Linked DNA regions of Homo sapiens. The protein of the gene in region 1 purifies or fractionates together with the protein of each later gene. This does not show direct contact. Each region holds a gene or a part of one and is shown in the gene's direction. Other genes may lie near its edges. The genes, in order: ZNF277 and ACOT2.

Evidence for each region.
Region 2: the proteins of ZNF277 (region 1) and ACOT2 purify together in Homo sapiens (affinity purification with mass spectrometry; one large-scale study listed by BioGRID and IntAct). This does not show direct contact.

Annotation. Positions count from the first base shown.
Region 1 is NC_000007.14:112,296,960-112,300,777, forward strand, and holds part of ZNF277 (zinc finger protein 277), read left to right. Parts: intron 1-3,818. UniProt on the Homo sapiens protein: Probable transcription factor. Involved in modulation of cellular senescence; represses transcription of the tumor suppressor gene INK4A/ARF, perhaps acting via the Polycomb group (PcG) complex PRC1.
Region 2 is NC_000014.9:73,567,511-73,571,428, forward strand, and holds the start of ACOT2 (acyl-coenzyme A thioesterase 2, mitochondrial), read left to right. Parts: upstream 1-1,702; 5' UTR 1,703-1,730; coding exon 1,731-2,373; intron 2,374-3,918. UniProt on the Homo sapiens protein: Catalyzes the hydrolysis of acyl-CoAs into free fatty acids and coenzyme A (CoASH), regulating their respective intracellular levels. Displays higher activity toward long chain acyl CoAs (C14-C20).

The DNA of each region.
Region 1 (3,818 bases):
CTCTGTTGCCCAGGCTGGAGTGCAGTGGTGTGATCTCAGCTCACTGCAAGCTCCACCTCCTGGGCTCACACCATTCTCCTGCCTCAGCCTCCCGAGTAGCTGGGACTACAGGCACCTGCCACCACACCTGGCTAATTTTTTGTATTTTTAGTAGAGATGGGGTTTCACCGTATTAGCAAGGATGGTCTCGATCTCCTGACCTCATGATCTGCCCACCTCAGTCTCCCAAAGTGCTGAGATTACAGGCGGGAGCCACTGCACCCGGCTGAAAATTTTTATTTTCGTAAGTTAATCAGAAAGTAATTTTTTAAATTGTTACTTTTGTTTAAAAGTACATGGGTTCCCATTATTTGTGATTTAATCTCGACTATTACTTGAAGTTGACTTGCTGTTCCTTTAGTGATTTCTTGTAAGTCTTTCTTTTATCTTTGGACTTAGCTAAATATGTTATAAGAGAGAGAAATGATTTAAATATTTGTGCTATATCCTCAAGAGATCAAGGAGAAAAATAAATGCTATTTACCATAGTCATATAATTTAAGAAAGTCCCTGGAAGCATATTTTATTTTGTAGACATCCCAAATGATTATTTCTTCCAGTAGGGGAAGGTGATACCATTGGATGTTGATTTATATCTAAGAAAAGTTTTCCTGTACAACAACTGCAGTAAAGAAATAGGACTTCCTGAGTTTCTCTTCTCTCCTTATAGCAGTGTCTTATGAAATCTGCAAAACAAGGCTAAATTTACTATCATGTCTTATGGATGTTATTTGCGTGCACTTATTCATAATTTCCAATTTACATGAATTTTCTCACTGTTGCTAACAGTGGCCTTAAGAATGATCAAAAGATGTCATGATCCTAGTAGTCCTAAGGATTTATTTATAAGAACTCAAACCCTACTACTTCAGCCATTCTTGTTCTTTAGCATGCAGAATCTGTACGATGTGTCTGCAGATGGACTCAGGTCTCTAAAAATACCTACATATACTGCATTTAAGTTACCTTTTTTACTTTACAGTTTGATAGTGATACATTTAATGGAAGTGAGCATTATGCCAGCTTACAGAAACAAAAGAAGAATGAAAAGGCAATCAATCCATACATGCTCGTTGAATTTCTGCTTAAGTAGATGCCTATACAAAGAAGTACAAGAGTACAAGGCATAATCCATATCATACAAGAGTGTACGGTCTACTTAGAGAAGAAAGATAAATATGTATTCTTATCTTGGTAATAGAGATAATGATAAAATATCTTGCAGGGCTTATGAAGATTAAGTGACATGTAATATACTTAGAACACTACCTGGCACATAGAAGGCACTTAATAAATATTAGCCAATAAAAATAACAGTAATAATGCTGTGTCTTAACAATGAGAAGGATTTGGATAGTTAAGAGAGTTGTAGGGAAGGGAAGAAAGATACATATGCATCTAAATGTTCAAGGTGTATTCAGGAAAATCGAGTAAAAGTCTACTCCGGCTTAGATAGAAAAATTTTTATGGGGAGGAGTATGAGATAAATTTGAAGAGGTAAAATGGAGCTAAATTGTGGAAATCCTTCAGTGCCAGAAACTTGACTTTGTAGTAATAAAGACCCATTAATGTGCCCTCATTGTCCATCAGTGACATGAAGAAAAGAGTAAATGTAGCTGCGTATAAATCCATTTCAAGCTGTCAAAGCCTGAGAAAGACTAGACCAACTTGGGGATTGGAAGTAAGCTAACAATGACTGATGACCATCCATAAGCCATGCCTTGTATTTGGTTCTTGCTTCATAGCACCCTGTGAGGTGGCTATTAAATGCCGTTCTATTTATGAGTAAAATGTGGCCTAGGAAGCTTAATTTGCCCAGGAACACATAGTGAATGAGGTGCAGAGCTAGAGTTTCAAACCAAACATTCCAGGTACATGCCTTTTAAGCCATGCCATGCCAGCGTAGTCATTATTTGGCCTCTCATGTGTCTGGTACTACTATTCTAGGCTCTGGGAATCTCTCTGTCCTGGGTGCTCATGGTCTGACAAGTCTGTGTAGGGAGGGGATTCAGGCTTGGATTGAAGTTTAGGGAAAGCAGAGGCAGTTTACAATAGCCCGCCACTGGAATTCTGATTAGAGGATCAACAAAAAGTAAAAAAAGACTTGCCAAACAGCAGGAAGACAGGCTGAATTTGCCATCAGCCAGTTCATCACAATTTTATGCTACATAGTGTGGAAGCATGAGGTTAGTGTGGGTGATTCTTCTGTGGGCGTTAGCAATGATTATAGGATCTATCTCCTTTATAAAGAAAGAACTTTACAAATCAGTAAGAAGCATGTCCAGAAAGAAGTCTAAATCATTAAATGAAACAAAAGTAACAGTATACTTTTTCTTCTTCTATCAAGTTAACAGGACTTGAAAATAATAGTACTAAATGGTGGCAAGAATGTTAAGAGACAAGTACTTCTTCAGCTGCTTTTAAGAATGTAAACTGGTATACCATTTCTGAGAGGCACTTTCTCATCATGCATTGGAACTCGTGAAGATGTTTATGCCCTTGGCCCATAGTGTGCAAGAACTCATCCTAGGAAGACTTTACAGCCAGAGGGTTTTGAAGTCACTCACTCTACCACAGCTTGGTGGTTTTTTCCTTATGCTGCTACTAATTATACTTTATCAAACAATTTTTTATTAATCAGAATTTCATTCTAGTTTCTAAAACATGTAATTTAAACCAATCAAACTGCTTAATGATAATGGATGTATAATGTATTCAGTGTTTGAGTGACCCCAGCTCAATATTTCAACTCAAAGACTTTGAATTGAGGATCTTGAGGATCTCAACTTGAGGATCTCAACTCAAGTCCACGAGGAAGAACCCTCAAACTAGAGTATTAGTAGGGCATTTGCTGACTTGATTTGCATTAACGATGATTTGCATATGTATTATTCTTAAATATTTATTCTTTCATGTGGAACTCTAGGTAAAGCATATAGTTTAAGTACCTTTGTATGGTTTGCTCTTAGTTCAAAATGACTGTAACTTAAGGGCAGAAACTGTGTCTTATATTTAAACATCCTTCCTAGTCCTCCCTATACTCCTAAGTTCATATTGTTATTTTTCCCCAAACCTCATTTTAAACAAACAGACAAAACTCTGTTTTCTGTGTGAGTGGCTGGAGGTATATAGAGTTTAAATGATTCACTGAAAGTTACAGTAACAGATTTTATGCTAGAATCATATTTCTTTTTCCATTTCTTTGAGATTTCACTGGTTTCTTGACATTTGCAAGATTTGTATGTGTTCCCAGTTTTCTTTTTGAAGAGCTTGATTCCTACTTGACACTTCTTTGAATATTTTCATCCATATTCTGAAAGAAACTACAGAATTAGGAAGATTCTCGAGGATTTCAATAGCTTGAACACCTTCTTCCCTTTAGCTTCCTTTAAAAATTCTCCCGTGATCTTGGTGCATCATCCTCTTATTTCTCATCAGTCTAGCTTAGTCTTGTCCAGTGGTTCTTTTCCCTCTTTTCTCTTAAATGTGTATACATATGTTTCTCAAGATCTTATCACCTGTTCAGGGCATGCACATCTGTATAACTACCACTATTAGGCCTATGGCTTAAATGTTAGTGCTGGTGCAGAGTAGGCAGTCAGAGTAAATATTCATGAATTGAGTTCATCCATAGCTTTCATCCTGGTTCACTTCTGAGCCCCAAATCTATATTTCCTTATGTGAAACTTTTCCATTTGGATTTCCAGTCCACACTTTAATATGCCTAAAAACAGAACTTATTTTTTTCCTCCCCCAAAACTTGCTATTTGCCTGTTCTC
Region 2 (3,918 bases), on another chromosome or scaffold:
CAGCACTCTGTAAAATGGAAAATCAGCGCTCTGTAAAATGGACCAATCAGCAGGACATGAGCAGGGCCAAATAAGGGAATAAAAGCTGGTCACCCCAGCTAGTAGTGGTAACCTGCGTGAGTTCCGCTCCAGGCTGATGGAAGCTTTGTTCTTTTGTACTTCACAATAAACCTTGCTACTGCTCCTTCTTTGGGTCCATACTGCATTTCAGAGCTGTAACACCGTGAAGGTATACAGCTTCACTCCTGAAGCCAAGACCATGAACCCACTGAGAGGAACAAGAAAAACAACTCTGGACCTGCTGCCTTTATGAGCTGTAACACTCACCTTGAAGGTCTGTGGCTTTACTCTTGAAGTCGGTGAGAAGCGAGACCATGAACCCACCAGAAGGAACACATTCCGGACGCATCTGAACATCAGAGGAAACAAACTCCAGACACACTACTTTTCAGAACTGTATTAAGAACTGTAACAGTCACTGCGAGGGTCTGCGGCTTCATTCTTGATGTCAGCGAGACCAAGAATCCACCAGAAGGAACCAATTCCAGACACAGAATTATTTGCCTTCTTACTTCCTGAGAGTTCTAGGCACAGAACATACTTGAGGTGTTATACAAAGGTAATTAGAACTGACAGGGAATTGTATGATTAATGACGTGGGACATGAGAGATTTGGAACGAGATAAAAAGGCTTACCTTGAGGACAGCCTTATTAGGAGCAGAGGCAAACACAGGTTTTGTGGGTTTGAAGCCTACACATTTATAGCTTTCTCTAATTACACAGGTAGGAAATTATAAAATCAGGTACAAGGGCTTGGCAGGGGCCTAAAGCTTAAGTGATGAAAAAAAAAAACACCACACCTCTGGTGAAACCAATAGCTTACGAAAAAGTAGAAAAAAGCGCGATGCATGGGGAGCTCCGGTAGTCCTTTGAGGTATTTGAGAGGCTGAGTCAGGAAGATGGCTTGAGCACCAGGAGTTGGAGGTTTGTAAGTGCAGTGATGGTAAACTGCCGCTGTACTCCAGTCTGGCAATGTAGTGAGACCCTGTCTCTCAAAAAAAAAAAGTAACCCTTGCCTGACTGGGACAATAATTGAGAAACCAGTAAAACAAAATAATAACTATTAGCCGGGCGCGGTGGCTCATGCCTGTAAATCCTAGCATTTTGGGAGGCTGAGGCGGGCGGATTACAAAGTCAGGAGTTTGAGAAATTACTACCTATTACCCCATTTGGCTATTTTTACACTTGTAAGGAATGAAGCTCAGAGGTCACACAGCTAGTAAGAAGCCAGCACCCTTCGATGTGGGATTGATGTGGAGGATAGGCATATACAGAGAACACAAAAGCAAAACACCATGGTGCAGATTTTGAAAGAAAAGCCCTAAGATTAGTAATGAGTGTGAATTATTCAACAAAGTGATCAAAACTAACTCCAGCTCTGCATTCCTCTTCGCCATCAGGAGTTTGGAGCCTGGAGACTGCTAGCTGCCTGGTTCTTTAAGAACCAGCCCTGGTCCAGCCCATTCCGCAGGCCAGCAAGCTTCTGAAAAGCAAACCTAGGAAGTAGCTTTCCAACATAAAGTGGAGGTTTCAACACAGGAGACTTTAAGCAAGTTCCAGTGTGTCTATATTTGGTCTGGCTGATCGGCTGGACTCTGGCCTTCCCCGCTCACGTTAGCAGACAGCTCTGCCCTAGTGGGCGCTTAGCCTGCGACGGCAGCCCGAGAGGATGTCTAACAAGCTTCTTTCTCCCCACCCCCATTCAGTTGTTCTCAGGTCTGAATTCAAAATGGCCTCATCTCCTGCTGTCCTTCGAGCGTCCCGGCTGTACCAATGGAGCCTGAAGAGTTCGGCGCAGTTCCTGGGGTCTCCACAGCTGAGGCAGGTTGGTCAGATCATTAGGGTTCCTGCTCGGATGGCGGCGACGCTGATCCTGGAGCCTGCGGGCCGCTGCTGCTGGGACGAACCGGTGCGAATCGCCGTGCGCGGCCTAGCCCCGGAGCAGCCGGTCACGCTGCGCGCGTCCCTGCGCGACGAGAAGGGCGCGCTTTTCCAGGCCCACGCGCGCTACCGCGCCGACACTCTTGGCGAGCTGGACCTGGAGCGCGCGCCCGCGCTGGGCGGCAGCTTCGCGGGGCTTGAGCCCATGGGGCTGCTCTGGGCCTTGGAGCCCGAGAAACCTTTGGTGCGGCTGGTGAAGCGCGACGTGCGAACGCCCTTGGCCGTGGAGCTGGAGGTGCTGGATGGCCACGACCCCGACCCCGGGCGGCTGCTGTGCCAGACGCGGCACGAGCGCTACTTCCTCCCGCCCGGGGTGCGGCGCGAGCCGGTGCGCGTGGGCCGGGTGCGAGGCACGCTCTTCCTGCCGCCAGGTGACTCACCTCCGCTAATTGTTCCGTGTTCGTTCGCCTTTCACTTTGTGTGTCTCCCCCGCCCCACGCTTTTCGCTTATGTGTATGCCCCCCCGCCGCGCCCCCGGGCTATATTGCCCAGGCAGGTTTCGAATTCCTGGTCTCCAGCTATCTTCCCGCCTCTGCCTCCCTAAGAGCTGGGATTACAGGGTGAGCCACCGCGCCCGGCACTTTGAGGGGAGTTACACTTTTTTTTTTTTTCCGTCCCTGCCCTTTTCACACGAAGAAGGGATGTAGCTTCCAACCTTCCGGAGGTTAGTGTAAAGAAACAGGAATGGAATGGAAAGCTGATTGGGGAAGTGTCCCTGCCGCTCCAAAACTGAGAGGTCCCTCAAACCTAGTGCTCAGTTAAAAGACATTGTAAGGGCCAGGCGCAGTGGCTCACGCTTGTAATCCCAGCACTTTGGGAAGTCTCGGCGGGCAGATCACGAGATCAAAAGATTGAGGCCATCCTGACTAACACGGTGAAACCCCGTCTCTACTAAAAATACAAAACAGTAGCTGGGCGTAGTAGCGGGCGCCTGTAGTCCCAGCTACTCGGGAGGCTGAGGCAGGAGAATGGTGTGAACCCGGGAGGCAGAGTTTGTAGTGAGCTGAGATCGCGCCACTGCACTCCAGCCTGGGCGACAGAGCGAGACTCCGTCTCAAAAAAAAGACATTGTAAGGAAAGGAAAAAGACACTTATATTAAAAACAAAACAGGCCGGGCGCGGTGGCTAACGCCTGTAATCCTAGCGCTTTGGGAGGCCGAGGCCGGCGGATCACCTGAGGTCAGGAGTTCGAGACCAGCCTGGCCAACATGGTGAAACCCCATCTCTACTAAAAATAGAAAAATTAGCCAGGCGTGGTGGTGCATGCCTGTAGTCCCAACTACTTAGGAGGTTGAGGCAGGAGAATCGCTGGAACCCGGGAGGCAGAGGTTGCAGTGAGCTGAGATCATGCCATTGCACTCCAGCCTGGGGGACAAGAGTGACTCTATCTTAAAAAAAAAAAAAAAAAATTCAGGTAGTTTCAATTTTTTAATGTTCTTATTTATGTATTGACTAGGAAGCCACTTTTTTTTTTTTTTAAATAAGAATTCCGACTGGTTTTCTCACTGTATTTCCATGGCAGCTAGGAGGTGCCAGGTGGCTGGGCCTGTGACAGTGCAGAGGTTTTGGTGCCTGCCCGCCCACCATTGCTCCAGCTGCAGCTGCTGCCCCCTGCAGGGCCTGTTCGTTCCTGCTGCCTAGCTCCCCGCTGGCTGGCTATGATCTCCCTGTTACCATTCCAGGAGAGCAGCCGCGTCCCTATGCATGGCAGGACCAGGTACTATTGTGGCCTCTCCTCTTGGCCTCGAATGGTATCTTTGTCATCAGTGAGCAAGTCCCCAAAGACCACGGTCTTGTCCATTGTCAGGATAATTCACTCCACAAGCTGGGGCTCCAGGTGCTGCCCTACCCAGCGGTGCTTCTCACCCACACAGTGGTCATACTTTGGCAGGGGCTGGTGCAGTGTGAAGACCTCG